Homo sapiens: one gene and its partner. The protein of the gene in region 1 purifies or fractionates together with the protein of each later gene. This does not show direct contact. Each region holds a gene or a part of one and is shown on either strand. Other genes may lie near its edges.

Region 1 (3,500 bases):
CCAGGTGTGGTGGCATGCACCTATAATCCCAGCTGCTCAAGAGACTGAGGCAGGAGAATCACTTGAATCTGGGAGGTGGAGGTTGCAGTAAGCCAAGATCGCGCCACTGTATTCCAGCCTGGAAGACAGAGCGAGACTCCGTCTCAAAAAGAAAAAAAAAAAAAGAATACAAAGAATTAGCCTAGTGTGGTGATGCATGCCTGTAGTCCCAGCTATTCAGGAGGCTGAGGTGGGAGGATCACCTGAGCCCTGGAGATTGAGGCTGCGGTGAGCCATCATTGCCCCACTGCACTCCAGCCTGGGCAACAGACTGAGACCCTGTCTTAAAAAAAAAAAAAAAATGGGGGTGGGGGTGGTGGGCCTGATGCGGTGACTCATGCCTGTAATCCCAGCACTTTGGGAGGCCGAGGCAGGTGGATCACCTGAAGTCAGGAGTTCACAACCAGCCTGTCCAACATGGTGAAACCCCGTCTCTACTAAAAATACAAGAAATTAGTTAGGCATGGTAGTGGGCACCTGTAATCCCAGCTACTCAGGAGGCTGAGGCAGGAGAATCGCTTGAGCCTGGGAGGCAGAGGTTGCAGTGAGCCCAGATCATATCATTACACTCCAGCCTGGGTGACAAGACCAAGACTCCATCTCAAAAAAAAAAAAGACTGAAAACCCAGCACCTTAGGCTTGCAGTCTGTGGCACTGAGCAGTAGCTGTCCACTTTAGATCAGACATGAGGACCCCAGTTTGCCCCAGTCTCCACCTCTCCATCTTGCCCTATATTCAGACTGCTTCCCTCATTTATGTTAACAGTGTGATTCCACAGACATTTGGGTTTGTTAATCCATAATCCATAACAGAAAATGCTGAACTCAGCTAAAACAATTAATAGACATATGTTATTAATTCACCTCAACAAGCCAATTAAACAATTTGAAGAGAGGGAGCCTAGAATGACCCCTATTAGCAAAAGCAGGATGAAATTCTTAAAGATGTCACAGGATTTTCCACTGAGGTGTTTGTTTGTTTGTTTTGTTTTTTTGAGACAGAGTCTTGCCCTGTCGCCCAGGCTGGAGCACAATGGCTCTATCTCGACTCACCGCCACCTCCACCTCCCGGGTTCAAGCGATTCTCCTGCCTCAGCCTCCCAAGTAGCTGTGGTTACAGGTGCCCGCCACCACACCTGGCTAATTTTTTGTATCTTTAGTAGAGACGGGGATGTTGGCCAGGCTGGTCTCAAACTCCTGACCTCGTGATCCACCTGCCTCAGCCTTCCAAAGTGCTGGGATCACAGGCATGAGCCACTGCAGCTGGCTGAGGTTTTTACTGAGTGAGGAAACACTCCTTCAACTAATATTTGAAGAGCAGAAGCCCTTCCAACTATGAAAGTTCTAATTAGATTCTAATGCTAGGGAGCATTTACATGGTACTCTTAGCATTTAGTGGATGTGGCACTGCACAGAGCACATTCAGTTAAGCACTTAATAAATGCTTTGGATAACAGGCAACCTTGACAGTCCTACTTCTTAAAGCATGTGCCTGTCACCATGATGGTAATGTGCCCAGCAGGACTTCTGGTCTGCTCTTTGAAGACAGTGAGCCTCTTGGGGGACTGTGTGAAGAGCTTTTGCCTCCAGCGCCTCCGTTGGCCGTTGGCCACAGCACTATGTTAAAATCCCACCTTCTGCCCTTCTGTCTGTGCTTTCCTCTTCTATGTTTACTCCCTTTGACCCTCTACTTTCCTGCTCTTGCATCCTTGAGGCTGCTTGACCGCTGTTAGATGTTTGGCCCAAGAGCCCTCTGCCCTCCTCAGCAAAAAATCAGCAAAGCAATGCCAAACAGGGACATAAATCATAGCGATAAGGCACGCCAGGCTCCAGGAAGCACCAGAGCTTGCCCAAGGTCACTCCACAGCTTCAAGCATGATCAGAAACTGAAGTTCCATAGCTGGGTGTGGTGGCTCATGCCTGTAATCCCTGTACTTAGGGAGGCCGAGGGAGGCGGATCATGAGATCAGGAGTTTGAGACCAGCCCGGACAACACAGTGAAACCCTGTCTCTACTGAAAATACAAAAATTAGCTGGGTGTGGTGGCACGCCCCTGTAGTCCTATCTACTGGGGGAGGCTAAGGCAGGATAATCGCTTGAACCCAGGAGGCAGAGGTTGCAGTGAGCCGAGATTGCGCTATTGCACTCCAGCCTGGGCAGCAGAGTGAGACTGTCTTCAAAAAAAAAAAAAAAAAAAAAAAAAAGAGAGAGAAAAGAAAACTGAAGTCTCTAACTGTAGCTCCTGTCCCCATGCCCCTGTCCCTTCTATAAGGCTACTGATCAAAGGGGACAGCAGGGAAAAAAGGGATGCTCTGGACATTCTGCAGGTTACTATTCACGATGAATTAAAATCAAATGAGAGCCTACTTCTGGCACCTAGGATACACTCAACAGTGCCACTCGCCCACACCCCATGCACCTTTTTTCATTTCTCTCCCTCAAAGAGTCATTTTACACATTTTTTCTAATCACTTACCAATGAAATTTTAATATCACAAATATACTATATATCTGTATATGAACCATATGTATATCTGTGCTTTAAACAATAAAAAAGTTAGATTTTTTTGCCACCTGCCAAGAACCAATTTTCACCCTTTAGGAGTGACCTTGTTCTCATTATGAATCTCTGCATTACGTTGTGATATTTATAATTAATTTTCAAATGGACATTTCCCCTCACACTTATTCTCATCTTTGTAGGTGGCAAACCTACAAAGGTTTGTACAAAGGTTTAGAAGGCTATTTTAGCCTTCTAAAATAGTCCATAGGGTTATGGAATGAGATATGGAAAGAACGGCTGTTCAGCTACAATCTGCACTCAGGCCTCCACAGAAGCCACAAATCTCACAGCTAAGGCCCTGCGGGAGAACGGGCAGTATAAATTCTGACGACCAGTCATTGGGAGACTTCAGAGTATGGTGTTTGGTATAAAGTGATGGATGGTTCTGGTATGGGGAAACCACATGGCATGAACTTGGGGACAGACAGAACTGTGTCTGCATTCCAGCTTACTGACCGGGAGGCCTTGGCAAATCATTAACCATACTGAATCCATTTGTAAAATGGGATAACAATATCTACCTTCTAAGGTTGTTATTAGTGTAACGATATCTACCTTCTAAGGTTGTTATTAGTGTAATTTGTGCATCCTAAGTAACAATGATACTTGGCAGTTTGTCCAAATTTACTAGGTCCCTTGCCCCTACCTGCCACATAGCAGTAGATGATTCCTTCTCTTTGTCTCACTTGTTTTTCTTGTTTTCTGGAGGGAGACATGTCATAGACAATGTCCCAGCTGCTGCTTTCAGCCCTTGACCAATGCTGGTCTAATATATTTTAACGCCCCCATACCACCTGCCATAGGTAGAACGTCTGCCCAGGGATCCCACAGTGACACTGTCCTGTCCTTGACCTCCAACTCCGCTAGGAGCATCTACTTTTTCTGCCACTGCTGGCAGA
Region 2 (3,500 bases), on another chromosome or scaffold:
AGTAAACAAACTGGATTAAATTGCCAAAATAAGGAAAATATCTCTGTTAGGAAAATTAATGGTACTAAAGCAAATGTTGGTTGCTTCAAAAAATACACCAACATAGAATATGAAAATGTGATTCTTAAAATAGGCTCACTTGACTGTACAAATTACTTTAATTCTTAAAATGTATTGGGCTTATTAAAAATTGGCTATTTAATAGTAAATTTTATTTGCTTGAAAATCAATCCTTTTTTAGGCAACACAAATAAATTTAGGAAGAGAAACAGATATAAAGTATGCGCTTTAACCTATAGGCAACCTCTTGAAATGAATAAAAAGCTCACAGTTGTCTCTTTGCAGGGACTTGTTCTCCTATTTTTAATTAAGTGGTATTGTTTTAGATTTGGTAAAGGTTTTTCCTCACTTCAGGGTTACACTAAAAAGCGGAGCACACACGCACTTTTAGTTTTCTTCACAGTTATTTGAACAAAATAATTTCAGGCCACTGCAGCAAAGATAGTTTGTAAATTGTGATGCCAGAAATGTAAGAACAACTACCAAAAATATAACAAGTGAAATGCCTAGATACAATTTTCTATTTCATTCAGAATCTAGCTATATTGAAATGGGGCCACTGTAAGATTCACACATTAAGTCCTCATCTTTATAGCTAATATTGATGTTCCTGGGGGACAAGAATTATTTAACTCTGAGTCCTTTGATAGGTTATCCTTGAGTTGGATAACCACTATTTTTACAATAAACAGGTTGCTAGCTAAGAATGATCCAAGAATGAATTTATATTAGCAATCTTGGTATTGAAGTATTGAGGAATGAGAAATTAAATGTTTCATAAAACCTAAAAAAAAGTTCTTATGGTAGACAGACAAAGATAAAGTTCTTATGATAGATGGACAAAGATAAAGCTTACTTTTCTGTGTTACATAGCTTAACCTTTACTGCAATTTATGAGGTGGGACAGATTCCAGTTTTTACTAAACTTTTTGTCGGAAAACATAGATCACAGTTATTATGCAAAACAATGAGACACATTTAAAAGTGACAATTTTCCCGTGAGAATTCCCTGTGCTTTCTTTGACCACTCAACAAAACACATTACTCTTTCTACATTAATTCTACCCTGTAGCATGTTTTAGAACTTGTTTATTCTATACATAAACACACACTGGTTTTCCCTGAACCATGTTGTAGACATTTTTCCCCAGAAAAAAATTTCTATGGTTGTTGAATTTGTAGGTTAGTAACAGGCTACATACAAATATGCTTTTTGTTTTCTTTAAATAGAATACAGAAATAGTTAATTTGAGACTTACCCGACAGTTCACAGCCAAGAAGTTCCATTCGCAAAGTGCAATGTCTTCGACAAACTTGGGGATAGAGTCTTACATACTGAGCTTTTATGGGGGGTGTGAAAGAGTTAGCATATGGAGTGTTGTTATCAATGTTTCCACGAAACACCTGTGTAAAAACAGTTTAAAATTATTCACTGCAACAGCTTATTTACCTATTTTTACATATTTACCCTATCTATACCTTATCGAAAATAATTGTTCGAAGAACAGATTACATTATTTGGGAGCATGGAGCATTTGAGAAGTGCCTTGCCATGAGCACTGAATATAAAACCCAACCATAAACTCCTAATTAAAGCCATAAACCACTGTGGCTCATGACATGATCTATATTCCACTGTGATGGTCTTGTCAATTTTAAGGCCAGTCTTTCAGAACCAGGGCAGCGCTCTTCTCTTTTTTTGAGAAATGGACACCTTAAATCCTTCAATTTAATCTGGGACTGTCTGCTCATTTTCCTACTTAGTATTCATACTTTTGGGGGTAGAATCCAGTCTTTGCTACTGCTTCCGGATCATCCAGTCTCTCTAATGCTATGATTAGATTTATGATGCTTTAAGGTTTGACTCATGAAGATTATGTCTTCATCAACCAGTCCCATGTACTTGGATAATAGAATTCCTTATTAAAATTTCCAGCTAAAAACTATGTTTGCCTCTAAAATTCAAGTACTATAATGTGTCATTGTAAATTCATTAAGGCTTATTCTTATTTTACCTTTTATGTAAACCTGATAATCCAAAAACCTTATTTAAATTCATTTAAGGGGGTAATTTTAAAAATATTTTATATAATTTATTAGAGTCTGGTATAATGCCTGATTAAATGGAATGATCTCCAGTCCTGATATTTTTAAAATTAAAATTTTCGATGAAGAACTAACAAAAGAATTGAGAATATCATAAGAAAAGAAAAGGAAGTATTGAATATAATATTCAATACCTCTAAAATATTTTATTTTGCTAAGTAACAAATCTTTCTTCCAATATGAAGCATATAAAGATATATATCTCTTCTATCACTTAGTGCTTTTTTGCTTTTAAGAAAATAGTTTTCATTAATATAATAGTTATCTCATTAAGGAGTGCGTTAATCAGCCGGGCGCGGTGGCTCACGCCTGTAATCCCAGCACTTTGGGAGGCTGAGACCGGTGGATAAGGAGGTCAGGAGATCGAGATCATCCTGGCTAACACGGTGAAACCCCATCTCTACTAAAAATACAAAAAATTAGCCGGGCGTGGTGGTGGGCACCTGTAGTCCCAGCTACTCAGAAGGCTGAGGCAGGAGAATGGGGTGAACCTGGGAGGCAGAGTTTATAGTGAGCCGAGATCGCGCCACTGCACTCCAGCCTGGGCAACAGAGTGAGACTTTGTCTCAAAAAAAAAAAAAAAAAAAGTGCGTTAATCACGAAAGCAATAAAAATGTATCATTAAAATAAAGCTTAATTGTCATACAAAAGACTGTGTCCACCTGTGTCAAAGTATTTGTAGCACCACCAATTAAAATCTGTGAAAATCTTAAATGTCAGCCATTTTAAGTTTATAAACTGGAGAATTACTACTTCCTTCATCACACTAGCCCAATTAAAAACAAGACGCATTGGTAATTTATTTTCATCAACATAAGTCTTCTCCTGAAGACCTTGTCATTTGATAATCAATAATTATCAATGACATTTTTCTTTTAAATTAAGTAGGTTAAATTATTCTTACCATGTCTTCATTGGTGCCTTTCACTTTGTACATTGCCCAAGTCTTTCCATCATTACTGTAGGCAATTTTGTAGGATTTTATATACTCTGGGCTTCCAATCCTCTTGGCTCCTTGGGTAATCACACCAGTAACTCTCATTTTCCTTTGCAAATTTATCTGAAAAGACGAGCACAACCAACAATAATCTTATTGTTTTCAGGATAACAATACTGAAAATACGAATTTTAGAAATGAAACATTGTTAATGCAGATTAATAATAACATAAAAAGCTAATAATTTTCATGGATAAATGTTTACAATAGGCATATATTAAATTTAGCTTCAAAATCCCTTTCTGTAATGGAATACTATTTTTAAGTAAACAAATATTTGTGAACAGGCTTTGAAAAGGGCAATGTGCCCCAAAAACATAAGTATAGAAAGCATCTG

Evidence for each region. The genes of interacting proteins can lie anywhere in the genome.
Region 2: the proteins of CDKL1 (region 1) and EDIL3 purify together in Homo sapiens (affinity purification with mass spectrometry; one large-scale study listed by BioGRID and IntAct). This does not show direct contact.

The regions. Positions count from the first base shown.
Region 1 is NC_000014.9:50,386,882-50,390,381, forward strand, and holds part of CDKL1 (cyclin-dependent kinase-like 1), read right to left. Parts: intron 1-3,500.
Region 2 is NC_000005.10:84,063,381-84,066,880, forward strand, and holds part of EDIL3 (EGF-like repeat and discoidin I-like domain-containing protein 3 isoform 1 precursor), read right to left. Parts: intron 3,227-3,500; coding exon 3,071-3,226; intron 1,465-3,070; coding exon 1,320-1,464; intron 1-1,319. UniProt on the Homo sapiens protein: Promotes adhesion of endothelial cells through interaction with the alpha-v/beta-3 integrin receptor. Inhibits formation of vascular-like structures. May be involved in regulation of vascular morphogenesis of remodeling in embryonic development.